2 separate regions of the Homo sapiens genome follow, and region 2 is linked to region 1. Evidence: fine-mapped expression QTL. A gene starts in region 1. The other region holds a variant in brackets. All regions are shown on one strand. Distances are from middle to middle. Region 1 holds the start of LINC03018 (long intergenic non-protein coding RNA 3018). Region 2 has its middle 41 kb from the start of LINC03018.

What was found.
Region 2: its variant is fine-mapped to the expression of LINC03018 in tibial nerve (GTEx, PIP 0.97).

The regions. Positions count from the first base shown.
Region 1 is chr8:57,738,300-57,754,042 of GRCh38, reverse strand. LINC03018 (long intergenic non-protein coding RNA 3018) reads right to left here and starts at 7,894. Exons shown (of 2, transcript NR_134276.1): 1 at 7,693-7,894; 2 at 3,846-6,102.
Region 2 is chr8:57,697,206-57,712,948 of GRCh38, reverse strand. No RefSeq gene overlaps it. Among named protein-coding and RNA genes, the nearest start is that of LINC03018, 41 kb to the left of the region's middle. The variant T/C (reference allele first, on the strand shown) is at 7,253.

The sequences.
Region 1 (15,743 bases):
TGTGTGAGGCTGAGTATGTGTGATAATATCTTTATTTTATCTTCACATTTAGATAATAGCTTAGTTCTTTGCCTTGAATCCTTTGAAACTCTTACAACCTTGTTTTCTTCCAGTTAGTGTTGCAGTTGTGAAATCTGATGTTCCTTTGAAGTGACCTCTTATTCCCCCCAAGAAACTTTTAGAATTATCAATGTCACTGATTTTCTAAATATTACTCTAATGTGTCTAGTAGCTGATGTTTCTTATTGATCCTGTTCGAGTCTGGGACTTTTTAAGTATACATTTCTTAGATACCTGAACCCTACTTGTTAATGCTTTTCTTCTGAAGTTCCCATTAGATACCTATCAATGTGTCCACTCCTCTCCTCCCGTCTTCTGATGTTTCCCTCATGTTTTAAGTCACTTAATCCTTCCCTGTTGCCTGCCCTGAGAGTTCCTCAACTGTACCTTCCAGGGCAGTAAAATGTTATTTTTTTCAGTACATTCTGCTGCTCAATGCATCTTTTGCATTATTTACTTCAACAGTTACATTTTCACACTTAATATCCCCAGTTGAATGCCGTGTTACTTTGTGTACTTGCCTCTTGTTTCTAGTGTCCTTTCTTACATCCCTGAAGACATTTATTTATGTTTACTTAAAACTCCTATTATATCTGGTATATTCATTGTGTAACTCCTGCTAGGTTGTTTATTTTCTTGCCCTTTACAGTGCTAGCACTTCTCAAATGTTGTCATTTATTTCCCTTTGAGTTCTATTCCTCTTGGAATTCTTTGTTACTCCTGGCTCACAATATAGGTCTGGGAGAAGGAAAATGCTCTGAAGTCGCAGCTTGTTCTCTTCCATAGGAGGTTTAGCTTTGGTGCCTTAGGACATTGGAGCCTCTGGTCTTGCAATCAGAGCCCCAAAAATACTCATTTTCTTCCTTCCCCCTCTGGGGAGGCTCTGCTCCAGACAAACCTCACTAGCTCTCCCATCCCCTCTTCGCCATGATGCTATTCTCTGAGACTCTTTTAATCCACAGCGTGTGTATAGAGAGATGGAGAGAGTAGAGGATTCCCAGAGGTGACCAGACCTCATGCATCTCTTGCTTTTGTAGTTTTGTCCTGGGCCAGCTCCAGTGCCTCCTCAAGTGTTTCTCATGAGTGTTCTGTGATGTTCAGAATACTTAACCTCCTCACTTCTGCGGCTTTTCCAGGGTGGGTTCAGGGGAAGAAGCCAGTAGCGTGTGCAAGCTTACCATCTTTTCTGGAACTAGAAATCCTTATTGACAGTAGGAGGAAATTCCTGAGATAACATCTATTATTTATTCATGTTTGAGAGTAATGAAAGCAGGACTTTAGCACTAGTGAAATCAGGAGATACAGGTGCAATTTTCAGCACTACATCTTATTGTCTCTGCGTCCCTCTACCTTTAACTTCTCTAAGTTTCAGTTTGGTCATTTGCAAGTTGGGAAAAGAAAACTGACACACTGTTTTATTCATCAGATACTGTGTATCAGGCACTAATATGAGGCCTGGACTACTTCATAAGACTTCTTGGAGAAGCAAAGGAGATAATAAGTAAAACAGCTAGGAAGATCAAAGTACACCATACTGAAGAGGGAAAACTGCATCAAGCTTGAGGACTTCGGCTCTCGAGTGAGAAAGATGTGGGTTCAAATCTTGTTTTTGCCACTTTCCTCTGTTATTTTGAGAATGTTATATAATTTTTCTGTGCATTAGTTTGGTGAGTTGTAAAATAGAAATAACATCTACATCAAAAGATCGCTGTGGGTTGAAAAGAGGCAATCTGGTGGAGCACTCAGTGGTTACTCAATGCCTGACATCGATTCTGCATTCAATAAACATTAGCTATTATTAGTGAATATATTTTCTCCTTCCTGGAATGGCAGCATTCTAGTAGCTTTAATCACTTCTCAAAGGAAATTAAAGGGACATTGGCCTTAGATAATTTAATGTTGCAGAATCTAAATCTAGCCAGTCCATTATTAAATATTGAAGAATTATGATCACTTTTTTGCCTTAAGAGCATCTCTTAGATTTTTGAGTAATCAATATTGTGGTCTTTGAAGTAAAAGCTAAAGCCTGTGAATCACTGTTCAGAAACTTGGTCTTGGGTAACACTGAAGTGTTTTGAAAAGAAAATGTTTTCAATAATAACAATTCAAAACTTGAGAAAATGTGTATGGATTAGACTAGCTACATAGGGTGAGGAGAAGGGTAAGTGTGAAAATGAAGAAAGACAGAGACTACAGATGGAAGATCAAGAATGCCAGAAGACATGAGTCCCCAGTGATTCCAGCATGCGTCATAACTGAAGCTGTGGAAATGGGGAGTCTTATTCTAGAATAGTGTTAATCTCTATTGTCCATACTGTTGTTAGTAGCAGCATTAGCTATTAAACAGTTGAAATATGGTTAGTGTGGTTGAGCTGAAGTTAAATTTTATTTATTTTTAATTGATTTCAATTGAAATTGAAATAGCCACGTGTGGTTAATGGCTACTGTATTGCACGATGCAGTGCTAGGAAAGGAAATTGGCAGAAATTATGTCAAATTAAAAATGGGTAATGAAGGAGTGAGAAAAACAGGTCTCCACAAAGACCCTCAAGGGAAGACTTTAGGGAGCCAAGGGTCTATGGATATTTTCTGATTCCTTCAGGGGTTTTTAGACAACCATCTGTCACCACCACATTCAAAACCCTCTGCCTTCTGTAACGTTGTCATCACCTTGCAATGCTTGTTAATATTTTCCCTTGTCATAACCATAGCCCTATGCTCAGAGCCCAGGGGAGCAGCACACCGTATGGCATGGAGTTCTCCCAAGGCCAGGAGAGAGACATTGATGCCAGAGCACAGAGACCAGTGTTCGTAGCATCAAAGAGTCTCCTTTTGTACACACAGCACATACCACCCAGCACACTGGCATGCAAAGGGAAAAAGCTGCCTCGTGATGCAGCAACCTGATCTCCCTGGACTTAGTCATAGATAGCTAGAGCCTGTAATTTGCTAAAAAGAAACTTTAGCTCCATTTCTTGTGTGTTTGGGCAAGATGTATATTTAGATATGGGCAATATTTGTGTGCGTGTGGTAAAAAAACAAATAGTACAGCACTGTAATAGCCTGTTTAAAGAAAGAGAAAGAGATACTTTCTCTTTTAGAAGTAAAAAATTTGAAGATGACTTCATGCTTGTTTTGGCTTGTGTCTTCTCAGCCTTTCTCAGGATGTCTAGAGCTGTTCTGAGGCTTAAGCCCTGAGCTTCCCAGGTTTACGCAGCATGTGGAGTATCCTCCTAGGAGCATTCTCTAACTCACCTGAGCATGGGACAGGGTGCCTGGGCTCCCTTTAGCCCACCATTATTGAAGCCATGTAATGAAGAGGTCTTTTTTAAGCATCAGATATGTAGTGTGTTAGAGCTCTCCTGGGACCATTCTGGCTGCACCAGAGAAATCAGAAAATGTGGGTTAGAGAGAGATTGATATATGGATGGAGAACCTTCTTTGCAGGTCACAGGAGGAACTCCAAAGACAAGAACAATTAGCAGATGGCCTTTGCTGGGTCTCAGCAGGAGGGGGCAGAGGGGATGCTTCCATTGCTAAGGTGCATTGCATCGTGCCAACAGCTTTCAGCAGCTAGAAAGTTTCCGTGGTTTCAGAGAGACATAATGTATCTTCCGTGGTTATGGTAAAAAGCATTTCCCCCCACCTACAGAGTGATGCTCGGTTATTGACTATATATTATGAAGCTGCATATCACAATTTATAGGAATATGAAAAGTTGCTATTCAATGTATTATTCGCCTAAATCCTAAATTAATACAAAGTTCACAAAGAAAAAAATAATCTTACGAGGAAAAAATTCTCTTTTTATTATTGAACCAAGATAGTATATTTAGATCTGTGACCTTCCTCATTATTTATTTACACTCTGGGGCAGACTTCTATGTTATACAAAATATTGGCAGGAATAAAAATAGACAATGATTTCAAATAAAATGTATTTTTCTTCACCAAATGAATTTTAGGGATGATTACACATCCAACCCTAGCTACCCTACATACGCACAAACATGTACAATTGGCATGATAGGAGCTTGGCGCAGAACATTTGAATTTTTCCTCCACTGTATGATACTTTGGTGTCTCCTCTAGTTAAAACTTGATTGACTTCTGTTTTGTAAGTGTTTGATTTTCTTTTGCTGTTGTGGCTGCTATAACATAAATGCATCCAATTTGTCCATTTGCTCAAAAACCCTTTATTAGGAATCTATTATTCACTCAAGGTCCAGGTAAGCAGATAAGTAATTGAGTATTAATTCTGCATAAAGTGGAAATTGCCGCTGTGACATACTCTTGGGCACTGTGCACCTCATCCTTCAAATGCCTAACAACAAAAAAATACTCCAAAAATAGTAAATTACAGTTTACTCTTGTTCTTTTGTGATGATATAACTAACATCTTAAGGGATAACCCAAGCACAATACAAAACTTTTAAACTGTGACCTTTTGATGTGGACTGCTACTCCACAGAGTATACTTTTAAAAAGCACAGATTTTAGATCTGCAGAGCTGCACAGCTACATGCAAAGATTTACTTTTCAGTGGTTTTCTCCCTTGGCTTAAAAAAGGTTCCCCTTCTTCCAGGACATCCTCCTTTATCTACTGTGGCTACATTATCTCCTGTGAGAGCATATTCCTATGATTCCTTTAGTGCTCATTGAGTATATATGAATGCGACATCCTTAGTATTATTGCAAACGGGAATTAACTCCTGCACTGATGGCTCAGCTTCCCCGTGTGTGAGTGTTCTCTGCCAACCGGAGTAGAATGCCCTTTCATGACAGATAGCACTAACCCCAGCTGCCACTACGCCGCTCTGGGACAGTGCAATGGGAGCCAGGCATCATGGTGGAGTCTTCTGCATGCACGTGTCTCTCATGCACCCCTTATACCGGCCCTGGGGAGGACGGAGGGGTGGCTGGTACTGAAGGTGGCTGGCAGCCTGCAACAATTGGCTTCAGGAAAGTGTTTCAATTGAACAATCTGTTCTTTCTTTTTAAAGGGCAGTTTTCAGAACATTTGGTGTATTTTTGGTTTGTCATGAAGACAATGTATTTTCCTGGAAGAAATTCCTCTGTTTCTAATCAAAATCTTCTTCTGACTACCGGACTTGCCTGTCCATTCAAGACCCCACAACCATTGCTTTCAACTAGCTTCCCTTGTGTTCCCACCAAGAAAACTAAATCATCACTTCTACATGGCTTTTTCTCCTGACAGACACAGAACTAACACAACTGAACACACTGGATTGCCCCTAGCTGTTGAAAAAGGGATCGTCGTAAAAATGTTTTTGTTTTTACGTTGTATGTCCTTCCTTCCTTGTTTCCTTCCTTCCTTTTTCTTTCTTTCTTTCTGTTTAGAAACAGAGACTAAAACAGAGGCTTGATCAATTCTTTCTCAGCTATTAAAAAGAGAAAGGCACTCTCAGGGAATGAGATTCAGGCAACAGCTTCACACTCCCGAATCTATTAACACTCAGATGCACCATCAAAACTCCTCTTCGGAAGCTCTTTAGGGAGGCAGAAAAGGAGGGTGAAACAAAATAGGGGATTTTTTCAAATGCCAGCATTTGAAAAGAAAAGTGAGAGTGAGAAAGAGAGCTGCTGGCAGAAGGCATGTGTGTGTGTGTGTGTTGTGTATGTGCATGTGTGTGTGCGCATGTGCATGTGTGTGCCTGTGTGTGCTTGTGTGCTTGCTGGGAGTTTGGGGGAATGGGGCTGAGAGTAGAGAAGTGCAGTGACATAAATCAGGCTTGTGCTGAGTTTCCTGCTTTTTTATTGGTTTGTTCCCTGTGGTGCTTTCTCTAAAGCTGCTTCCTCTTTCACTACGCTCATTTTGTTCCCAGTCCAGGAGGTCTTAGGATATTGGGGAGATGCCAAACATCTGGAGTTTGTGAAGGAGAGGGAGGAATCTCCATGCTTGACTAACTTAATCTTCATGTGTCCAAGGGGAAGCTCAGCATCATGCGGCCAGAGGGGTCTGTAGTCTGTCCGCTTGGCAGACACCTGTTGAGTGCTATAGAATCATGCAGGATGCTCCACCTGTGTAATCAAGAGATAGGTAAGAGGTAGCCAAGTTTATAACATTTCCACAACAACTAGGGTTACAATAATTATGCCATAACCAAGTATGTAATTTTTTTGAGACAGGGCAACTCTACTATTTCAGTCTTTCATATGTAATTACCCTATGCATTATTATTAAATCTCTCACTTTCAGAGCATTTACCCTGTGCCAGGCCCTGAAATAAGTGCTTTACATATGTTAGCTCCCCTAATCCTCACAATAATTCAATAGATAATTAATGTGTTGTCATTTCTATTATGTGGATAAGAAAATGGATTCATAGAAGCTATGTTATTTACTCAATATTCCCTAGCCAGAAAATAGTATTCCTAATAGTTAATCTGGATTTTTCTGATTTAAGAATCCTGGATAAAGATTATTTTTGACATTTCAATTGATTATTGCAAATGTTAATGCAAACAATGTAACTAATAATGAAGCACTGGGATCTCCTGTTTCTGTTCCCTGATAAAATGAACAGAACCAATTAAAATATTGGTTTTAATTTTCTACAGTTTATTTCTTTTCCTATGTGTTCTCTTCAGTAGTTAAAGAAAGAGTTTTTTTATCAAAGACAAAATCTTAAATCAATAAATTTAAGACTCCATACTTGCTACAAATAATTAATTTAGGAAAAAATCAGGCATTATATTATAATTTATTAACCATGACTGTGAAAATGTTGCTTGGGCCAAGCACATTTCTTTCTTCTAAATTCTAAGAGGTTGAGCATAATTTCTGTGAATTACTTAATATTTTTATGTATGTCATTCAGTTACCTATTTCTGTGTAAGAAACTACTCCAAAACTTAATAGCTTAAAACAATACTGTTTTATTTTATCTCACAGATTCTGTGTGTCAAGAATTCAGAAACAGCTCAGCTGAATGGCTCAAGTAATACCGACTGAAATCACCGGGTTTTCAGCTGGTGGTTGGGATGGTTGAGAGCCGCGCTGTCCAATTATGCAAACATATATACATAGAGAAAGAGTAATTTTAAATTTTCTAATAACCAAATATAAAAATTTTAAGTGGAATTATTTTAATAGCCTATTTTAATACAATATATCTAAAATATTATTTAAACATAATATAAAATTCTTAATGAGATTTTTAAACATATTTTTAGAAATCCAATATGTGGCCAGGCATGGTGGCTCATGCCTGTAATCCCAGCACTTTGGGATGCTGAGGCGGGAGGATCAGTTGAGGTCCAGAGTTCAAGACCAGCCTGAGCAACATGGAGAAACCCTGTCTCTACTAAAAAATACAAAATTAGCCGGGGATATTTTGGGATTAGGTGGCACATGCCTGTAATCCCAGCTACTTGGGAGGCTGAGGCAGGAGAATCACTTGAACCTGGAAGGCAGAGGTTGCAGTGAGCTGAGATCGTGCCATTGCACTCCAGCCTGGGCAACAAGAGCAAAACTCCGTTTCAGAAATAAAAAAAAAAAAAAAAAAAAAAAAAAAAAAGAAAGAAAGAAAGAAAGAAAGAAAGAAAAGAAAAAAAGGAAATCCAGTATCTATTTTACTCTTATAGTATATCTCAATTTAAATTACTCACATTTTGAGTGCTCAGTAGTCACATGTGGCTGATAGCTATTGGATAGCACAGGTTGCTGAGGCTCCAAGATATCCTCACTCTCATACTTGCCACCCTGCTGGAGTTGGCTGGAAGGTTGGGCTCAACTGAGCCCCTCTCCTCTTCCAAGTATTTTTAGTTTCTGTGTGGTCTCTCCCATAGGAATAGTCAGCCTTCTTCTAAGACAGCTCAGGGCTCCAAGAGACTGAGCTGAAAGCTGCCAATCCTTTTAAAGGGTAAATCCTGAACTGGTGTGGCATCATTTCCTCTGTAATATATACAACAAAACAGTCACAGTTCAGCCTAGATTCAAGGGGATGAAAAACTGATCCATTCTTCAATGGAAGGATGGTGAAAGATGTGTTGCTATCTTTAAAATGCCAGAAAAACATATTAGTTTATGTCAAAATAGGATACAGCCTGAATATCCCTTATCCTAAATGCTTGGGACCAGAAGTGTTTCAGATTTCAGATGTTTTTTCAGATTTTGAAATATTTGCATTATACTTACCAGTTAAACATCCTTAATCTGAAAATCCAAAATCCGACCTGTTTCAGTGAGCATTTCCTTTGAGTATCACGTACACACTCAAAATACTATGGATTCTGGAGCAATTAGGATTTCAGATTTTCAAATGAGAGATGTTCAACCTGTAGAATAAAGCTGCACATTTTAAAGTCCATTTATATAGATGATAAACCATTGAGATACAGTATATAATGAAAGTGAAAGTAATCAGGAATGGAAAACCAAACGCCGTATGTTTTCACTCATAAGTGGGAGCTAAGCTATGAGGATGCAAAGGCATATGAATGATACAATGGATTTTGGGGAGTGGGGGAAAGGGTGGGAGGCAGGTGAGGGATAAAAGACTACACATTAGGTACAGTGTACCCTACTTGGGTGATGGGTGCACCAAAATCTCAGTAATCACCACTAAAGAACTTACTCACACAATCAAATACCACCTCTTCCCCAAAAGCCTGTGGAAATAGTTTTTTTAAAAAAGAAAACACCAGTATACGTTGCACATAGGAAACATAAACGTTATTTCCAAAGCTGTTAAAAAAAAGAAGGTGAAATAATAAGCCTAAATTTAGCAGATGCTGGAATATTATAGTAATACATGAATCAATTATGGATGATAAATATATGTGCATTTATAACCTAAACATCTATAATTGATCATATATGGTTTATTTTATATTAGATTCTTAGTGAACAACGCAACATCTAATACCAAATATTAACATTGTTCTTACAAGAAAATTTTAAAAAATTATTTTTCTGCCATGTTTCCTAATGCTACCAATATATAATGGTGAAAATTTCTTATTTTATTCTATCTGGGCTTTTTTTTTTTTTATTTTTAGGAACTGTTTTGCAATGGAGTTCCTGCCAGTGACTTTAAACCTTGTTTGGATGACTATTTAGCATGGAGATTTCTACTTGTTTGCAAATAATCTGCTTGAAATATCAAAGAGGAGACCACAGCAATTATGAAACAAACAGAATCTTACGGACTTCTTTTTATTTTTTTTCCCCAGATATTTGGATAGGTCAGATGAAATCTCACATATTGAAATCACTTATTTATAAGCACTAGCTACACAAAATGAAATCAAAGCACAGTGAATAAGGAATTCAAGGAACTACTGTCCTGGGGTAGTAATATCTTGAGATTCTGAAATTTATTATTTCTGTCACTAAGCTAGAGAATGGTAATTGAGCTAGACTAATATAACATTGCTGTTGAAAGTCTCTGACTATTCTCTCAAAGGATATGGTCTTTGTGACTAGTCACAGGTTTCACTTAAACTCATTGCTTTTGACAATAACAAGTCTCTCTTTTTTGGACTTGTCCACATTGTGCCAAGTGGAGCTGAGATTAGAGAGTTTATCAGTTGTAGTAGATATCCATAATGGACCAACAACAACAAACACAATTATGTGAACTGGAATTTAATTCCCAGCCATAGCAGCCAGGAAGAATTTACCAAATCTATCAGTCGTCAAATTCCATGACGTGCCTGAAAATATGTGGTAATTAAAAATGTAATCACTGAGGCTAGAAAGAAGATACTATGTTCTCATTTAAGGTCTTAATTGACTCATGCAGAAGATGCCTGTTAGTTTATTCTGCATGATTTGGTAATTTCAATTCTACATGGAACTGCAGAGTCTTACGTACTAGTATTGATGTGAGAGTTTGAAAGGGCAGAATGATCCATACATTTGCTGTTGACCTGCCACTTGGAGAATTTACTGTCTCAGAACTTCTGAATTGAATTAGAATTCTTCTCTGTGGTGTACACTCAATAAAGAAGGCATCCAGTTAAAATTAATCTGGTAGATTCAGACTCAACACACAGATAAGATGGAATAATCACTATATTAAAAGTCACTTAGCTTTCATTCATTTAACTTATTTATTTACTGTCTCACCATATTCTTTCTTTCAGTTTTATACTTAATGTCAAGAACATTCTATGGAGAGAAAGTGAACTAATATTTATTTAAAACATTTTAAAAGCCACTTAAGGAAATCTATTACTACTTGCTTGCTACTGTATAAGGCAGTTCACCTTTATGTTCCTATTTACTGCTCTCAGCAAACCCAGGAGATAAATACTATTATTAATGCCATTTCACAGACGGTGAAATTGAGTCTTAAGGTGATTAAGTCACTTGTCCACTATCCTGCAGCTAATAAATGGCATATAAGGGATGTGAGCCCAGGTTTGCCAGGCTGTAAAGGTCTAGTTTTTAACTACTCTGCAACAGTAGCAGGAGTACCAGTAGGAACCATAGTAGGAGCAAATAGCTAACATTTACCGAGTACTCATTGTATGCCAGCCCCAACCTTTTTCCCAGACAGCTAGCTCAGAGCCATCCTAAACCAAACCACGCAGAGTTCTGTGCCAGCCTGAAATAGCAGTGCCCAATGGCCAACAGCGTCTCCCAGCACCTAACAGGTTCTGAGGCATGTACATCCCTCTGTGGAAAGTCTCTCCAGCACTCCAGAGGAGAGACTTCCAGCAATTACCAACTGTGAGACACCTGAGTGATTTCTGAGCCATCAGTGAGTCACGGCCATGCATTCTCCACCATCTGGAGTTCAGCTACGATGGCCATGAGGAGATCTTCCCTGGGTGTTTCATGTCAGCCCTGGAAATCATGCCTGCTCCTTCCATCTGTGGCTCCTAGGTTCCTTAGTATTCTCTTTAATTCTCAACAGGCAACTCCTCATAAGCAAATCTTCTGTTAATAATTCCTTATATTACACTTTGTGGTTGTAAACATTGCATGTGTTCTGTCTCCCAACTGGGCCCTAACTCATATATTATTTTCATAAAAGCTCCATAAACAAAAACAATCATTAGCTCCTTTTTACAGGTGAAGCAACAGAAGTACAGAGCAGTGAACATGGTTTTCTCAAGTCTGCTAGCTCTGAGAGTTGATAGGTCTGGCTCTCCTTTATCCCCCTTGTCTTACAAAGGTTGGAGGCCCCCTGAGTCCCATTCTCAGTCAATTCTCAGTCTAGTCAACTTCCTAGTTCTTTAGGCTCCAACTAGCACTGAATTTATTTTCAGTTAAGACCTGAATTGTTTCTCCTATCTCCCAAAAGATTATATTTTGAAGCCATTCTCTCAATGTGACTGTATTTGGAGATAGTGAAGAAATTAATGTTAAATAAGATACTGAAAGAGTAATCGATCATGTTAAAAGTGATTGATGAGGGTCTTAACATGATAGGACTAGTGTCCTTACAAGAAGAGGAAGAGTCTTTTTCCACAAAAAAAGTCATGTGAGGACAAGTGAGCAGGTGATTGTTTGCAAGCCAAGGAGGTGGGTCTCACCAGGAACTGATGATGCTAACACCTTGATCTTGGACTTCCAGCCTCCAGAAATTTAAGAAAATAAATTTATGTTGTTTAAGCCATTTAGTCTGTGGTGTTTGGTTATGGCAGCCCAAGCCGACTAAGTCACAGCCCAAAGCTGGTAAATCCAAAATCCACACCTTTAGTGTTAGTTGTCTACCACACATCTCCATGTAGTTTTCAAACTTTAATCTTGCCTCCCCGAATTGTCCTCCTCATCAATTCTCCATCATCATTAAAGGCCTCACTAGCTGTGGAGTCACTTGAGCCAATGACCTTGGGATCTCCAACTTCTTTAGTGCCTCACAGCCTTCATAGTTATGACAATTCTAACTATTAGATAGTCTAGTTCATTTCCTCCTTTGTTTTCTATACAACTTGCTTATTTCATGATTTAATTATATTTCATTTGTTCTTTTGCAGAAGCAAAGTGATCTTGTTGTCTTAGTGCTCCTTTTCTCCATCCCTTTTTACTTCACGCCATAAATCCTGATCTGATTATGCTGCTCTACAAACCTTTGACAACCCCTTACTCACAGCAGCTTTTCCAAAGTCTGTCTCACAGAAGATACACCCGAGAGACAGTCTTATAAAAACAATTTTGTGGTTTGACTCACAACAGCCATTAATATAGTAAAGGCTCATAAAAGACCTGCAGAATGTCTTCGATTTAACTTTATTTAGTCCAGCATTTTTCAAATTCAGGAACTATCCATTCTCTCTGTCCCATTTTTCCCTCTTTGCACATGTTTGGCAGGATGTGCTGACATATTAGATAAAATAAAATCTCTTAATCTTGGTGTGGCAGAGTCTGGTTGTCACCCTGTAGTGAATACCGCTGTTGTCCTGCACATACCTCCTTAGATCTTACTGTTTCTATGGGACTGAGCTCAGCCTCCATCCTTTGGGGGCAGCCTGAGCCTCAGGCTGAAGGATGACAGAGAAGCAGGAAAGCCCAGCTGTCTTATCTCAGGTCAGGATTACCCTGAGAGCTCATTTTCCTTCCAGAGCTTCCCCCATGGTTCATGCTGACACTGCAATCCTGGGATCGTTGCCTGCAGTTATACAAGGCTAGCTTCTTTCTCTTTCCTGTCTTGTTGAGATAATTAATAAATCATGTGCATACAAATCTTTGTCTTGGGCAAGCATCTGAGAAAGCCAGCCTGAGACAGTACACCAATATTCTTTCAAAGCCTATGTTATTGCATAGCAGTAATGTAGTTCAGAGAGAGCAGTAACTCCATTCTTCCTACCACAGTGATTGGCTTAGGAGAAAGGAAGTTTATGCCAATTAATGCATAGAGCTACCCTAAAATAATCCAGAATTGGGATTAATTCTGGATTGGACATGAGGTCTACTCAGACCATTGACACATGAGGAGGGGATTTGCTGTATAAGTATATAAAGTTACATAAAAATTGGACCCAAAGGCATTTATTGTGAAATAATCATTCTTCTAGCTCTGATTCATCTCAGATGGAATGTTAGCTAATGGCGAATTGAGACTATTTGCAGTGACAGAGTTCTGTAGGAAGGCTTATTTGAGTAAAAATAAATAGCAAACAGCAATGTGAATCAGACCATGTTTGAAAAAGAAACAATGTGAAGGTAGTTTTAGTTTATTAGGAATTATATATTTTCATTTAGAAAAATCCTAAATGAGCATTTTTATAGCCACAGAAGCAGAGGAATCTGTTTCACCAAGCTTCATGATAGCCTGGTATCAACTTTGCTGAAATATTTCAAACCCTCCTACATCAATGTCTCTCAAAGTGTGAACCCTAAACCAACAGCGTCAGTGCCACCTGGGAACCTATTAAGAGTTCGAACTGTTGAGTTGCATCAGTAAACCCAATGAAGTAAAATCTTTGTGGCTGGAGTGGGGGTGCCTGGCAATGTGGGTTCTAACAAGCTATTTGTTGATTTCACTACATGCCAAAGTTTGAAAATCTCTGTCCTACATGAGGGCTCACACTTTACCTTTCCTGTCTTTTCCTTTATTCCATTAACACCATTCTCATTATGTCTCCTATCTATACTGTCTTTCATGTAAAATGAAAGACATATACATAAACCATCACTCTGATTCAAAATACAGTATATTATGAAAGGAATCAATTCAATTTCATACGTATCATAGATTTTTACCTCAGAAATAACTTGTTTCTCATTGCTACCATAGCAAATAATATCTCAGCAGCTAGAGTTTTCTTAATATTTCACAAGTTTGTATTTATGTTTCACGTGCTGCTTTCTCAAAGGGAGATGTTTTACATATATATCTACATATATAATGACTATGGTGATGAATCAACATGTAGATTCTTTTGAACAAAGCACTGCATACTTTTTATTTTATATAAATAAATTTTGTGCTTTTTTAAACCTCTAGTTGGTTAAAAATGACCCCATAATCTGGTCTAAATATTAAAAGCTTTCAAATTGATTCATACTTCCCATCTATCCCCAACAATACTTAATAATGCTTTAGGGAAGTTCAACTATTTCTACTTTTATGTTTTGAAACTGGGTTTTATTCTGCTTTGCTAAACTTTTAAAAGATAATTATCTCTAAGTATTCAAGTTAAGTAGATGAATCTCTGTCTAACTTATGAGCAGACTCCTAAAATTCTCAGAAAACTGGGTGAGTATAATGAATTATTTTTATAGAGCTATAAACTAATCATATTTTTATAATAATGTGAGTCTAGCAAACACAGATTGAGGTCAGGTAATTTTTCAGGTTAACATTCTACATTACTGTAACAATTTTTGTTATTCTTAAATGAAAATTCTTGATAAACATGAGCATGGCTCTTTAAAAGCTTCCTACACTGGAAGATCTGCTACCTGGATCTCTGCTTCTCCATGGGAGAAAACGCAAGCTTAAGAGGATATGAGAGAAGGCAAAACGGCCAGTGGGGGGAGGCATGGCACAGCTCAGCAGGTGTCAAGAGCATGAGGAAGTTTGCTTTTTTGCTCTTTGGAGGAATATACATGTAAAAACAAACATGAATTTATTATGAAGGAAATTGTGAAATTTATATGACCTTGATTTCAATGCTGAATTTAAAAATAAATGGAAATAAAAATCTCATTGCTGGGAGCCAAGCTGGCCAATGAGATGCAGCCAGGAAAAGCATCTCCCACTGAAAAAACAGACCATCAAGAAGACTAGCACACTCCGAGCAGATCTTTGGACAGATGAATTGAGAGGGGACAAAGAGCATATGCAGACCCTTGGCTGAAGAGGGAGGAATCTGGGAACTCTGCATGGGTTTGCCAAACACCAGGATTTGTTCCTGGCCCCCAACAACTTCAGGAGAAGGGATGAGTTAAATACGAGAGATATGGCTCACTCTCACCATAGACCTTCACAATCCTAGCTGCAGGAGACCCCATAACCCCCACAGACATTTGAGCTGACAGAGCGAGTTGCTTGGAGAGGTGGCAGGGACAAGACTCCAGCCTGTCTGGAGGCCAGGGGGTTTGGCATGAGAATGGCTACAGTGGGGCAAGACCAGGTGCTCCCATCCCCAAGTCTTGCCACACTCACACTTCTCTAGGTGGCTTTGGCTTTTGTTGACTGTTGGGCCTTGAAAGAGCAGGGTTGTCTTTTCCATAGCATGAAGCCAGTCTGACCTCAGCAGCCCACTGTCTGCTGGCCTCTCCTGGGGTCCCTGCCTGGCTGCGCCACCTTACAGCATAGCCTTGGATGGCCAAACAGGGTGCTTCCCAGGGGCCACTGCTATCGTTCCTTCACTGGCAGACCCTACCTAACCATTGGAGAGCTTCAGGAGAGAGGCCCTCACTGACACACACACACACACACACAAACACACACACACACAGCCTCCTTCTACCAGTTTGCTGGTGATTACTCATTCACAGCACCCCATCCACCACTTTCCTGGTGCATGAACATGTGCAGAACCCACTTCGCTGTTGCCACTGGTGTGCGTATGCACAGACTTTGCCACTGCAGCCCTGCACCTGCCAGCATGGTTGTGTGCACACCCTGCCACCACCCACCCCCACCAATGCATGTGCCCTACTGTGCTGCTGTCACTGCTGGCACACATGGGCAAGCATGGACCCCACTACCGCTGCCCTGATGAAGCACTTTGGCCAACATCCCCCAGGCAAAGTG
Region 2 (15,743 bases), 41 kb after region 1:
TTTCACCATGTTGGCCCGGCTGGTCTCGAACTCCTGACCTCAGGTGATCTGCCCGCCTTGGCCTCCCAAACTGCTGGGATTACAGGCATCAGCCATCGCGCCCGGCTTTATTCATCTCTGACCCATCTACCCTTCTCAGGTTAATATTAAAATAGGAACTCTATCCAGCACTCTGTTGGAATTTGTAAAATAGCAGAGAACTTACCGGAAGCTGGAATGGTCTGGTTCAATATTCTGGGTGTGGATGGTTGAGGGGGTGGTTTGTACTGAAGGGTCTTTTTTTTTTTTGGTCATTCGTGTAGAATAGGTCTCTATTGATCTTCTCAAGTGAAATTGACCCTCTTATTTTAAAGTAGATATTGAGAGAAACCTCTTGTTCTTTTACATTATCCAGCCAGTTTCTCTTAGAGTGCTGAGGAGCTACTGATCGAGCATCCCTAATTGAAAAATCCTTAACCCAAAATTTGAAACTTTTTGAGCTTCACTATGATGCCACAAGTAGACAAGGAAGATGATGTTGTTAACACTGCAGAAAAAGTGGCCGTAGATGACATGGGAAAAAAGTGTGATGGGGCTTATTGAAGAATTAGAGCAATGTCCATTCATAGCAGAGCAAGAAATCATGCTCGTTTATAAAATCAGAGAGACTTCAAGAAAAATACATGTTGTCAATGAGGCAGATGACCCTGGAGGAAATGTTTTTAAAAGCCATTTAGCCATCTAGCCTGGTGGTGTCTGTTGTTGCTGTTGCGGAACAGCTGACACAGATATTCTGGTGACGCTACTGAGCTGGTTAGTTACCCTCAACATGTTATTTTTTCACTGTATGAATGGCATATCATTTTTTTACTATGATGTACTTATGTGTGAATAAGTGTGAGAAAATAATTGCTTATTGGCAGCATTTAAATTCAGCCAGGAATGATGGTGATGCCAAACAACCACAGATTGTCCACATGGGTCACACAGTGACACCTTTCCTTGCTGATGGTTCAATGCACACAAGCTTTACTTCAGTCACAGAATTATTGAAAATATTGTACAAAATTAGGGTATGAGTAGAAGGTATATATTAAACATAAATACATTTTGTGTTTAGACTTGGGTTCAATCCCCAAGATATCCATTATGTTTATGCAAATATTCAAAAATCTTAAAAAATCTCAAATCCAAAACATCTCTGGTCTCAAGCATTTCAAATGAGGGATCTTCGACCTGTGTAAGTTGATGTTGCCACTGTTCCTTGCAGAGATTGCATGTGGCGGCATATGGCCTGATTGGGCCTATAACTGTTAGTATAAAAAAGAGGAGAATCCACGTTAAAATCTCATTTAGCTTGTCTTTGAAAACAAGCTCTGGAAACTGGGCTGCATTGCTGTGTGGTTGTATCTCTTGAAGCTGAGTAAATTGCTTCTTCTTTAGCTGAATAGACAGTCACAGGACTGGTTGATGTTTCTCTTATTCCCACCTGTCAGTCATCTGCACTACCTGTCCACCCCTGTAGGCTTCTGAGTTTTCCAACCCCTGCAGCATTTGGAATTCAGGAAGGAAGTGGTTGTGATCCATATGGCATTGTTCTATTTTCTACATGTGACTCTGCTCTGGAATCTTATCTGTTGCAAGGCTGTGTATGTTACAGCACCAACACTTTATTAGAGAGTGGGTTTCTTAATAATAACTAATAGAGTTCCGTTTTTTCACTTTAAGGGAATTGACAGCCTTTCTCAACCATAGGACCTCCTTAGGTCTCTGTTCCAAAGAGATCATCCTAACAAAAGTCACAACACTGTTCATTTTGAGGCTGCATGAACCTCTGAGGTATAAAGCAGCATTAAATCAGAGAGAGAGCTGAGGTGTCAGTACAGAGCAAGAAAATGTGATTCTTTTATGCGTGACTGCCAAAATTATATTCCATACCACTATAAGTTTCCCAATCTGAAAAGAAATTCAAATTTAGGAACTTATTTTGGGAAACAATATTTCTATACTAGCTTCACAGTTTTACTCTCTGTTCTGGAACAGAAATTTGCTATTCTGGGGCCAAGGCAGGTCTATCATTTAGAGGAGGGTTGAGGATATGGACAATTTAGGTGAAATCAAATTTTTCTATTTTCATTGCATTGTTAATCCATCAAAGATGTACACATTTTATTCTAAAGGGACAATATCTGCACTTACTTTCCTTTGCTCTCTTTTATTTTTCCTCTTTAACCCTTCCTGTACCTCCCCTCAATCCCCTGAGAAACATTATATCCTCAGGAAGCCTCTTAACTAACTAAGACTAGAGGCAGTGCAGTCATGAAACTCTGGGACTGCTTCTAAAGTAGCATATTTCGCACTATTTATCAAGTGCTTGCTTTCCTATCTATCTTCATCAGACACTTGCAATTCTTGCAGGCAGGGACCTTGCCCTTCATGCCTGTGTCCAACTATTATATACAAGGAATCCTGCTTAATGACTAAGACTCAAATTATTCACTGGACACGAGATGCAGTAACCTTGATCAAACTTTTATACCAAAATACAGTTCTCTGAACTTATCATTTTAAAACGAAGTCCAATTTGTCCATTATTTATAAATCCACGTTGTATTATAAATTATGTTATATTATTTATATATTACACAAATATAAATATATAATTCCACAATGTGGGAATAGATGAAACAATTTTCAACTTTGTTTTTACTTACAATATTAACTTTCACTCCCAATCTGTTCTTCCATTATTGCTCCTTAGGGAAACTACTGTAAAAATTCAGTATGTGATCTGTATCACTGTGTATAATACTGTCCTAAGCAATGATAACATCTACAAGACTTTCAAAATTATACTAGCTTAAGTGAGACAGAAATATATTTCACTAGCACATAAAAGGAATCTGGAGCTGGTCATAGAGGACTGAAGATAACTTCACAATTTTTAGGGACTCTGGACATGTTTATCCATGGCACCTTTAGTCTAGCCGGCTCCTCTTCATTCCAGCCAATAGAAAGAGAAGAAGGAAGAGGAAGAGTCCGCCACTTCCATTTTGGAAAGACTTCTTAACAGTTCGCCATGCTGCTACTCACAGCATTAGCCAGAACTTGGACAAGTGGCTGTACATGTCAAGCAGGGAGACAGAGAATGTGCTTTTAGCACTGGTAGCAATGTGCCTTGGAAAACAAATATAGCATTTTTTCTTCGTTTCAGTTTTCTGTTTGTTTTCTGAAGAAGGAGAACAAAGAAGTAAATGGATGGTGCAGGGTGGCACTCTGTTATATTCCTCCAATTATTTTGTATTAACAGACATAATTTAATGTGGAAATATATTTATTTTAATAAAATCAGGTCATATATATTATTGTGATTATAATGTTATCACTCAAAATTTTGTGTGTGTGTGTGTAACTTTCTTTGATTTTTTAAAATTTACTTTAAGTTCAGGAATACATTTGCAGAATGTGCAGGTTTATTACATTGGTATACATGTGCCATGGTGGTTTGCTGCACACATCAACCCGACATCTAGTTTTAAGTCCCACATAAATTAGGTATTTGTCCTAATGCTCTCCCTCCCCTTATTGCCCACCCGCTGAAAGGCCCTGGTGTGCGATGTTCCCCCCCACGTCCATGTGTTCTCATTGTTAGACTGCCACTTGTGAGTGAGAGCATGCGGTGTTTGGTTTTCTGTTCCTGTGTTAGTTTGCTGAGAATGATGGCTTCCAGCTTCACCCATGACCCTACAAAGGACATGAACTCATTCTTTTTTTTATGGCTGCATAGTATTACATGGTGTATATGTGTCACATTTTCTTTATCCAGTCTATCATTCTTGGCCATTTGGGCTGGTTCCAAATCTTTGTTATTGTAAAAAGTGTTGCAACAAACACATGTGTGCATGTGTCTTTATAGTAGAACGATTTATAATCCTTTGAGTATATAGCCAGTAATGGGATTGCTGGGTCAAATGGTATTTCTGATTCTAGGTCCTTGAAGAATTGCCACACACTCTTCCACAATGGTTGAACTAATTTACATGCCACCAACAGTGTAAAAGTGTTCCTATTTCTCTATAGCTTCACCAACATCTATTGTTTCCTGACTTTTTAATGATCACCATTCTAACTGGTGCGAGATAGTATGTCATTGTGGCTTTGATTTACATTTCTCTAATGACCAGTGATGACGAGCTTTTTTTCATATGTTTGTTGGCCGCATAAATGTCTTCTTTTGAGAAGTGTCTGTTCATATCTTTCACCCACTTTTTAATGGGGTTGTTTGTTTTCTTGTAAATTTCTTTAAGTTTCTTGTAGATTCTGGATATTAGACCTTTGTCAGATGGGTAGCTTGCAAAAATTTTCTCCCATTCTGTAGGTTGCCTGTTCACACTGATGATAGTTTATTTTGCTGTGCAGAAGCTCTTTAGTTAGGTTAGATCCCATGTGTCAATCTTGGCTTTTGTTGCCATTGCTTTTGGTGTTTTAGTCATGAAGTATTTGCCCATTCCTATGTCCCGAATGGTATTGCCTAGGTTTTCTTCTAGGGTTTTTATGGTTTTGGGTTTTACATTTAAGTCTTTAATCCATCTCGAGTTAATTTTTGTATAAGGTGTAAGGAAGGCATCCAGTTTCTGTTTTCTGCATATGGCTAGCCAGTTTTCTCAGCACCATTTATTAAATAAGGAATTCTTTTCCCATTGCTTGTTTTTGTCAGGTTTGTCAAAGATCAGATGGTTGTAGATGTGTGTGTTATTTCTGAGGCCTCTGTTCTATTCCATTGGTTTATATATATGTTTTGGTACCAGTACCTTGCTATTTTGGTTACTGTAGCCTTGTAGTTTGAAGTTAGGTAGCATGATACTTCCAGCTGTGTTCTTTTTGCTTGGGATTGTCTTGGCTATGCGGCCTCTTTTTTGGTTCCATATGAAATTTAAAGCAGTTTTTTATATTTCTGCGAAGAAAGTCACTGGTAGCTTGATGTGAATAGCATTGCATCTTTAAGTTACTTTGGGCAGCATGGCCATTTTCATGATATTGATTCTTCCTATCCATGAGCATGGAATGTTTTTCTATCTGTTTGTGTCCTCTCTTATTTCCTTGAGTAGTGGTTTGCAGTTCTCCTTGAAGAAGTCCTTCATGTCCCTTGTAAGTTGGATTCCTAGGTATTTTATTCTCTTTGTAGCAATTGTGAATGGGAGTTCACTCATGATTTGGCTCTCTGCATGTCTACTGTTGGAGTATAAGAATGCTTGTGATTTTTGTGTATTGATTTTGTATCCTGAGACTGATTTTGTACCCTGAAATTGCTTATCAGCTTAAGGAGATTTTGGCCTGAAATGCTGGGGTTTTCTAAACACACAATCATGTTGTCTGCAAATAGAGACAGTTTGACTTCCTCTCTTCTTATTCGAATACCCTTTATTTCTTTCTCTTGCCTGATTGCCCTTGCTAGAACTTCCAATACTATGTTGAATAGGTGTGGTGAGAGAGGGCAGCCTTTTCTTGTGCCAGTTTTCAAAGGGAATGCTTCCAGCTTTTGCCCATTTAGTATGATATTGGCTATGGGTTTGTCATAAATTGCTCTTATCATTTTGAGATACTTTCCATCAATAACTACTTTATTGAGAGTTTTTAGCATAAAGGGATGTTGAATTTTATCAAAGGCCTTTTCTGCATCTATTGAGATAATCATATGGTTTTCGTCATTGGTTCTGTTTATGCGATGGATTACATTTCTTGATTTGCATATGTTGGACCAGCCTTGCATCCCAGGAATAAAGCCAACTTGATCGTGGTGGATAAGCTTTTTGATGTGCTGCTGAATTCTGTTTGCCAGTATTTTATTGAGGATTTTCACATTGATGTTCATCAGGGATATTGGCCTGAGATTTTCTTTTTTTGTTGTGTCTCTGCCGGGTTTTGGTATCAGGATGATGCTGGCCTCATCAAATGAGTTAGGGAGAAGTCCCTCTTCTTCTATTGTTTGGAATAGTTTCAGAAGGAATGGTACCAGCTCCTCTTTGTACCTCTGGTAAAATTTGGCTGTGACTCAAAGGCTGAATAAGTTTCCACAGGATGCAGGCACCTTCAGTCAGTTAACTATCTGTTCACTATCTGCCCTTCTTGAGTTAATAGCTCCACGTTTTCTTCTGGGGATCCACTTGTGGTTCCAGTAGAGTGGACTCACCTCTCTGGTCCCATACCCCAGGTCCAAAAGGTCCAAAAGTTGTAAGGGCCTCGTCAATTAGATTCTTGGTTTCCTCTGGCCTAAATGGAGGGTTGGAGAATGGGCCTGTGTCACCATCAAAGTCAGTGAGCAAGAAAGAAATATTTGCTGCAGCTTCTGGAAGTGAAAGGGGTAATCCTTTCTCCCTGTAGTGTAGCTGGAAACACATCTCTGAAGCCCCTACCTCCATCTCACCATGGTATGAGACCCATGAGAATGAAATCCCATACAGAGGCCAGCAGGAGTGAAAGGCAGAAGAAAACATGTAAATTCTGATCAAGACTTTTCTGAATTCTGTCCTAACTCTGGAGTTTTCAGATACATGGAATTTCATTATGATTAAGCCAATTTGGATGGGAAATTTTGTCACTTATGAAATTTAGTGGCAGGGAACTGATTTGAAATTCTCCTTAGAAGAAGATGGTGAAGAGTGACTAATGATGTCTTTCCCACAGTTTCTGAGTTGATAGGAGAATGGTATCTCTTTCATTAGAAAACCTGTCTATGTCTATGAATTTGTTCTCTGAATTAGAGAAGAAAAATCTTTTGCCTAGGTGAAAAAATGAGAAGTTTTACAAATAACGTGAAAAGCAGTAATAGTGTTGGAAATGTTCGCAGGACTGGAATGGCTGCATCTTATACTCCTAAGTAACCCAACGGGCACTTTAAAATCAGACATGATTAGGAGGACTCCATAATTAGTAAAGTACGATGACCTTCTGCTTTTCAAGCATAAGAAGTGTGTAGTCTTCCCTCCACCCTCGGCTCTTTCGTCCTTCTGACAAAGAATACCCTTGTTCTCAGCACAGGCAGATTCGGAGGCTTGGCTTTCTTCACACACTGACAGGATTTTGTTTATCTTAAGTGAGATATGGACAAAAGGAAACACAAAACAGATGAATGGGCAAAAGTATGAATAAACAACTCCTGCAGCTGAGTAACAGATGGCTGCTGAGCCCTCATGACTAAACAAATTGATCTGCAAGATTTCTGGAAGGAGATACTTGTTAATGTTTTTCTCAAGCAAAAGCTATAGTGATAGAA[T/C]AAAAATGATCTCATCGCCTTCTGTAAAAACAAAGAAAAGGTTGTTTTAGAGAAGCAAATAAAGGCTTTATTATAAAGTTATCCTTTATTCTCTCATTTGTCATATATTCAACAAACCATTCCTGGGTGCCTTGTATTTGTCAGAAACAGTGGGGTGCTGGGGTTGCCCAGAAAGACAAAATGACCCTCACCTCCCACCCTTGACCCCCATCCTGAAGAATGCTCCCAGGTGAATTGAAGAGAATGCCTTGCAAATACATCAATAATAATATATGCTAGAACAATTCTATAGCAAAGGTATGCGCACATGTTGCAGACAGGAGTATTTGTTGTGAGGCAGGTTAAACATCACAGATGTTAGAAGCACCGTGGCCCGAGATTGAATCTTGAGTGGTTCTGCCCTGACTGACTTAGCTTTTCAGAGCTAATTTTTCTTACAAAATTAGAATAATTATACCTACCCACACCTTCATTGACTCAGGCAACTTTTATGAAATGTAGTCTGTGGTTTTCAGGCACGTGGCACAGAATGAGAGGGCAAAGGAAGAAGTGAGTCCCTCTGTGGGAAGTCCTGAAGGCCCCTACCTTTGCCAGAGGCTGTGCTGGGAACTTCTTAGTGTAGGCAGCTGCAGTTGGAGCTTATATACCTGGGAGCCAGGCTCCTGTGTGAAAATCCCAGCTCTGAGTCGACTATGTGAACTTGGGCAAGTTACTGAACTTCTCTGTGCCTAAAGTTCCTCATTTGACAAATGAGGATAACAATACAGGTTGAGTATTCCTTATCCAAAATGCTTGGGACCATCAGTGCCTCAGGTTTCAGAATTTTTTTAATTTTGGAATATTTGAATATACATAACAAGATCTCTTGGGGAAGAGACCCAAGTTTAAACACAAAATTGATTTATGTTTCATATACGTCTTATAAACATAGCCTGAATGCAATTTTATATAACACTTTAAATAATTTTGTGCATGAAACAAAGTTTGTGTATGTTGACCCATCACATGATATTAGGTGTGGAATTTTACGCATGTCATGTCAGTGCTCAGAAAGTTTCAAATTTTGGATTTTGAGATTAGGGATGCTCATTCTGTAGTAAGAGTTTTACTGAGTTATGACAATAAAATGAACTAATAATACATGTAGAGACGTCAGTACAGGGCCTGACACATAGTATTCTCTAAAGAACAGTATTTGTGATATCATGATTTATTTATGATGATAAAATGAAATAACATGTAAAGTACAGAATAAGGCTCCTGACACATTAAACAAACGGTTAGTAAATATTTGTTTTATTTGTTTTGGTGGAGTAAATCAGCACAGCATATCATCTTAAACAGCTTTTAATTAAGATGTATTTCTTTAATGAGAAGATAAGCTAAGTATCACATGTGAAAATTAATAAAATTGTCTCACTTTTTATTTGATACTTTTAATATGGAATGAAATAACTGGACTGAATTTTGTCAACCCTAGTCTCTAGTATCTTCTTCCTGGACTTTGCAACAGGATTCATTTTGCGATAGGACAACCCAAGTCTCTCTGCTGCAGATTTACAAAACTAAGTAGCTGACTACACGATTGCATGGGAGACCGTGCAGTGATTTGCAGAACATAAGGTCAATACCCCGCGCTTCTAAGAAATACTCTGCGTGGCTTTGTAGATAGGGGATGGAGCACACGGCATCTTTGGGACACCCATTTTGCTGGAGCCACAGAGAGGGATGGGCCTTGCTGTGTTCTTGTTTTCAGGTTGGCTTTGGAGGGCTGCCCACCAGGGTACTGGTGCATACTTTTCAAAAGACCCCTGTCACTTGAGTTTAGATAATGTTCAAGCAGTTGCTCTGCTGTGGTCAGCAACACTATGTGATAGATTCAACTCCAGAATTGAAGGAATCACCAATTTGCAGGAGTCTCAGGATGAGAGACTTCATAAAGGGAAGGCCTGTGACATTTCAGGAGCACCTCAAGCAGGGCCCCTCACACTGGGAGCATGGTAGGGCTGAGATGCCCAGGCCCAGCTTTTGAGGCAACTAAGCACTTAATTGCTCCTTTAGATTTCATAGCATGAGAAAGACCAGCACACAGGGAGCAACTTGAACTCTTGTGAGGTGTTTAGGACCCCTCCTTTGGATATTGCCATTTTTTTAAGTTCTTTTAAGAAGAGGAGGAAGCACTATGGTCCCCTGCTGCCTCTGTGCCCTTGGCCAAGGACTTGGCACAGTGGGACTACGATAGAGATAGGCTGGATGTAGAGGTGCTACTGAGGACAGTGGAGTAATACTTTTATGGGGTGCCATTCACTTAGCGCTGGGAAAGAAATGTGTCACCCAAAGGAATAAACATGGTTTGGGCAGTGGGAATCCTTAAGACAGCATAGAAATGGCACTGGACTATGAGGCAGGAATTGCTCCAGCTCTGGCTTCATTGGCTAACAGACTCAGGCCCTGAGTGACCCTGGGTGAGCTGTCTTGGCTCCTTTCCTCCTGGCAGGAAATGAAATCCAACTGCCTGTGCTCCCTCGTGTCTCACCAATACACATGGTTCTCAGTGTGATAACAGGTATTGTCTCTCTGCCAAGCTTTTTCTCATATTCCCCTTCCAACACAATCCTAACGCTTTGTTTACTGTTCTCATTTTTTTTTTTTTTTGATAAGAAAAATGAGACTCAGAAAGGATAAGTTCTGGGTCACAGCCATGAATCTAGTGAAGGGGAAAGCTGAGGTTCTCATGGCAGCCCTGAGAACCTCCATGTACTCCTCATGTCTCCCCAGACTGAGCGCAGTAAAAGGAGCTGAATGAGGCTAACTCAAAGGTAATTCACAGTAGATAATGTTTTCCAAAGTCAATTTGATTTTTTCATTTATTTATTTTTGGTGGTGTTGTTTAACAGCTGGCTTAACAAAAGATCTGAGGAAAGGGTCCAGAGAAATCCCCACGATGAGAAACAGTGGGAGTTGCTCTCTGTGAACTGGCAGCTGGTGTCCTTGCCCAGCGACAGAGAGGATAGCCCAGCTGTACCTCATGGCACTGCACTCCCTGCCAGGCAGTGCTCGTCTTCCTTCTGGCCTGCAAGAGCAAGCCCACAGGAAGTGAAATTGGAGAGGCCCCCAGTGCTTTGCTTGGGAAGTCACAGTGAAGACTCACTGTGGGGGCACAGGAATGCAGGCTCCCTCAGGTTTGGCAGCTTCCAGCCTCACAAGTGTTTCACATTGACAGTGAAGCAGAGGTGATGAGAGTGGTCCCTTGACATGATCCCTGATGGCAGACGAAGAACAGTGTTTATTTGTGTACAAAGAACCTCTGCACAGAAGACAAATGTTTCCTTCCCTCATGGTTACAATTAGAGAGGAGGAAGGTGATTTTGGAAAACAAAGTTATATATTTTTACTTATTTCAAAACACTATGTTGATACCATAAATATATGCAATTTTTATTAATTTTTTAAAAAGCCAAAAACTATTCAGTGTTATTATCAACAACCCCCTTTAACTGTGGACACAAAACATGTGGTAAAGATTTGTGTTTTAAAGATACCAGATGTTGCATACCATAAATACATGCAATTTTTATTAATTTTTTAAAAAGCTAAAAACTATCCAGTGTTATTATCAACAACCCCGTTTAAATGTGGACACAAAACATGCAGTAAAGATTTGTGTTTTAAAGATACCAGATGGAAATGCATATTTCATTGTATTTGGAAGTTTTTCTTTTCTCTCTCCATGTTCACTCATTCATTCATTTATAAACATGTAATGAGAATCTACTCTGTACCAAGCTCTGTGCTATATGCTACGGATGTAAGAATGGAATTGTTCTTCCTACCACTGCTGGGCAAGTAAATAAATACAATGTAGAAGACATTTGCTAAAATGGGGTATATTCTTTGGAACAGCCTAACGGGTGTGAACAACCTCAGAATTTCAATGCCTTGTTGTGTGCCTGGCCCGTCAGCCTGAGGTAGCTAATAGCAGGGTCCAGGGCTTTGCAGGGCACTACCATTCTGGGCCTAAGCTCTTTCCACCTCCAGGTTTCCCCTTCCTCTGTGTCCTCAGAACCCTCTCCTCCCTGTTAGCGGATAGACAGAGAGAGGGAGAATTGCTTTAAGGAGATTTTTAAGGGCCTTTCCTAGAAATGGCACAGATGACATCTACTCCCTTTCCTTTAGCCAGATTTCAGTTATGTGGCCACACCGAGATGCCAGGAAGAGTAGAAAATATAAATGGGATGTATGTTCAGGAGAACTTGGATATTGGTGTGCACTAGGGACACAGACATAGAGTTATGTTCAAGGACAGAAGTCTTAATTAACAATTCCCCTGTTTTAAAAAGATGAATGGTTACATTGACTGATGCCTACACAGTGAGTTATGGACCTGATAACCATAGCTGATATGATGATCTTATGAATATTATATATATATTTTTAATTTAATTTAACTTTTTATTATACTTTAAGTTCTGGGGTACATGTGCAGAACATGCAGATCTGTTACATAGGTATACATGTGCCATGGTGGTTTGCTGCACCCATCAACCCGTCATCTACATTAGATATTTCTCCGAATGCTATCACTCCCCCAGCCCCTCACCCCCTGACAGACCCCAGTGTGTGGTGCCCCCTCTTCGTGTCCATGTGTTCTCATTGTTCAGCTCTCACTTATGAGTGAGAACATGTGGTGTTTGGTTTCCTGTTCTTGTGTTAGTTTGCTGAGAATGATGGTTTCCAGCTTCATCCATGTCCCTGCAAAGGACAGGAACTCATCCTTTTTTATTGCTGTATAGTATTCCATGTGTATATGTGCCACATTTTCTTTACCCAGTCTATCATTGATGGGCATTTGGGTTGGATCCAAGTCTTTGCCATTGTAAATAGTGTTATAGTAATCACACGTGTGCATATGTCTTTATAGTAAAATGATCTCTAATCCTTTGGGTATATACCCAGTAATGGGATTGCTGTGTCAAATGGCATTTCTAATTCTAGATCCTTGAGGAATTGCCACACTGTCTTCCACAATGATTGAACTAATTTACACTCCCACCAACAGTGTAAAAGTGTTCCTGTTTCTCCATATCCTCTCCAGCATCTGTTGTTTCCTGACTTTTTATTGATTGCCAAACTAATTGGCATGAGATGGTATCTCATTGTGGTTTTGATTTGTATTTCTCTAATGACCAGTGATGATGAGCTTTTTTTCATATGTTTGTTGGCTGCATAAATATCTTCTTTTGAGAAGTGTCTGTTCATATTCTTTGCCCACTTTTTGATAGGGTTTTTTTTTTCTTGTAAATTTGTTTAAGTTCCTTGTAGATTCTGGATATTAAACTTTTGTCAGATGGATAGATTACAAAAATTTTCTCCCATTCTGTAGGTTGCCTGTTCACTGTGATGATCATTTCTTTTGCTGTGCAGAAGCTCTGTAGTTCGATTAGATCCTATTTGTAAATTTTGGCTGTTGTTGTAATTGCTTTTGGTGGTTTAGTCATGAAATATTTGCCCATGCCTATGTCCTGAATGGTATTGCCTAGGTTTTCTTCTAGGGTTTTTATGGTTTTAGGCCTTATGTTTAAGTCTTTAATCCATCAGTAGTTAAGTTTTGTACAAGGTGTAAGGAAGGGATCCAGTTTCTGTTTTCTGCATATGGCTAGCCAGTTTTCCCAACACCATTTATTAAATAGGGAATCCTTTCCCCATTGCTTGTTTTTGTCAGGTTTGTCAAAGATCAGATGGTTGTAGATGTGTGGTGTTATTTCTGAGGCCTCTGTTCTATTCCATTGGTCTCTATATCTGTTTTGATACCAGTACCATGCTGTTTTTGTTACTGTAGCCTTGTAGTATCGTTTTGAAGCCAGGTAGCGTGATGCCTCCAGCTTTGTTCTTTTTGCTTAGGATTGTCTTGGTTATATGGGCTGTTTTTTGGTTCCATATGAAATTTAAAGTAGTTTTTTCCAGTTCTGTGAAGAAAGTCACTGGTAGCTTGATGGGAATAGCATTAAATCTATAAATTACTTTGGGCAGTATGGCCATTTTCATGGTGTTGATTCTTCGTATCCATGAGCAAGGAATGATTTTCCATTTGTTTGTGTCATCTCCTATTTCCTTGAACAGTGGTTTGTAGTTCTCCTTGAAGAGGTCCTTCACATCACTTGTAAGTTGTATCCCTAGGTATTTTATTCTCTTTGTAGCAATTGTGAATGGGAGTTCACTCATGATTTGACTCTCTGTCTATTATTGGTGTATAGCAATGCTTGTGATTTTTGCACATTGATTTTGTATCCTGAGATTTTGCTGAAGCTGCTTATCAGCTTAAGGAGATTTCGGGCTGAGACGATGGTGTTTTCTAAATATACAATCATGTCATCTGCAAACAGAGACAATTTCATTTCCTCTTTTCATAACTGAATACCCTTTATTTCTTTCTCTTGCCTGATTGCTCTTGCCAGAACTTCCAATATTCTGTTAAATAGGAGTGGTGAGAGAGGGCTTGTGCTGGTTTTCAAAGGGAATGCTTTAAGTTTTGGCCCATTCAGTATGATACTGGCTGTGGGTTTGTCATAAATAGCTCTTATTATTTTGAAATACGTTCCATCAATACCTAGTTTATTGAGAGTTTTTAGTATGAAGGGATGTTAAATTTTGTTGAAGGTCTGTTCTGCATCTATTGAGATAATCATGTGTTTTTTATCATTGGTTCTGTTTATGTCATGGATTATGTTTATTGATTTGTGTATGTTGAACCAGCCTTGCATCCCAGGGTTGAAGCCAACTTGATCATGGTGGATAAGCTTTTTGATGTGCTGCTGGATTCTGTTTGCCAGTATTTTATTGAGGATTTTTGCATCAAAGTTCATCTTGGATGTTGGCCTGAAATTTTCTTTTTTGGTTGTGTCTCTGCCAGGTTTTGGTATCAGGATGAGTTAGGAAGGAGTCCCTCTTTTTCTATTGCTGAAAGAGTTTTAGAAGGAATGGTACCAGCTCCTCTTTGTACCTACGGTAGAATTCGGCTGTGAATCTGTCTAGTCCTGGGCTTTGTTGGTTGGTAGGCTATTAATTACTGCCTCAGTTCTATTCAGGGATTCGACTTCTTCCTGGTTTAGTCTTGGGAGGGTGTATGTGTCCAGGAATTTATCCATTTCTTCTAGATTTTCTAGTTTATTTGTGTAGAGGTACTTTATTCTCTGATGGTTGTTTGTATTTCTGTGGTATCTATGGTGATATCCCCTTCATTATTTTTATTGCATCTATTTGATTCTTCTCTGTTTTCTTTTTTATTAATCTGGTAAGCAGTCTATCTATTTTGTTGATCTTTTCAAAAAACCAGCTCCTGGATTCATTGATGTTTTTGAAGAGTTTTCCGTGTCTCTATCTCCTTCAGTTCTTCTCTGATCTTAGTTATTTCTTGTCTTCTGCTAGCTTTTGAATTCGTTTCTTCTTGTTTCTTTAGTTCTTTTAATTGTGATGTTAGGGTGTCAATTTTCAATCTTTCCTGCTTTCTTGTGGGCATTTAGTGCTATAAATTTCCCTCTACACACTGCTTTAAACGTGTCCCAGAGATTCTGATACATTGTGTCTTTGTTCTTTGTTCTTTGGTTTCAAAGAACATCTTTATTTCTGCCTTCATTTCTTTAATTACCCAGTAGTCACTCAGGAGCAGGTTGTTCAGTTTCCATGTAGTTGTGCAGTTTTGAGTGAGTTTCTTAATTCTGAGTTCTAATTTGATTGCTATGTGGTCTGAGAGACTGTTTGTTATGATTTCTGTTCTGTTGCATTTGTGGTCAATTTTAGAATAAGCGAGATGTGGAGCAGAGAAGAATGTATATTCTGTTGATTTGGGGTGGAGAGTTCTGTAGATGTCTATTAGATCTGCTTGATCCAGAGCTGAGTTCAAGTCCTGGATTATCCTTGTTAATTTTCTGCCTCATTGATATGTCTAACATTGACAGTGGTGTGTTAAAGTCTCCCATTTTTATTGTGTGGGAGTCTAAGTTTCTTTGTAGGTCTCTAAGAATTTGCTTTATGAATCTGGGTGCTCCTGTATTGGGTGCATATATATTTAGAATAGTTAGCTGTTCTTGTTGCATTGATCTCTTTACCATCATGTAATGGCCTTCTTTGTCTCTTTTGATCTTTGTTGATTTAAAGTTTGTTTTACCAGAGACTAGGATTGCAACCTCTGCTTTTTTCTGCTTTCCATTTGCTGGGTAAATCTTCCTCCATCCCTTTATTTTGAGTCTATATGTGTCTTTGCACGTGACATGGGTCTCCTGAATACAGCACACTGATGGGTCTTGACTCTTTATCCAATTTGCCAGTCTGTGTCTATTAATTGGGGCATTTAGCCCATTTACATGTAAGGTTAATATTGTTATTTGTGAATTTGATCCTGTCATTATGACACTAGTTGGTTATTTTGTCCATTAGTTGATACAGTTTCTTCATTGTGTTGATGGTCTTTACAATTTGGTGTGTTTTTGCAGTG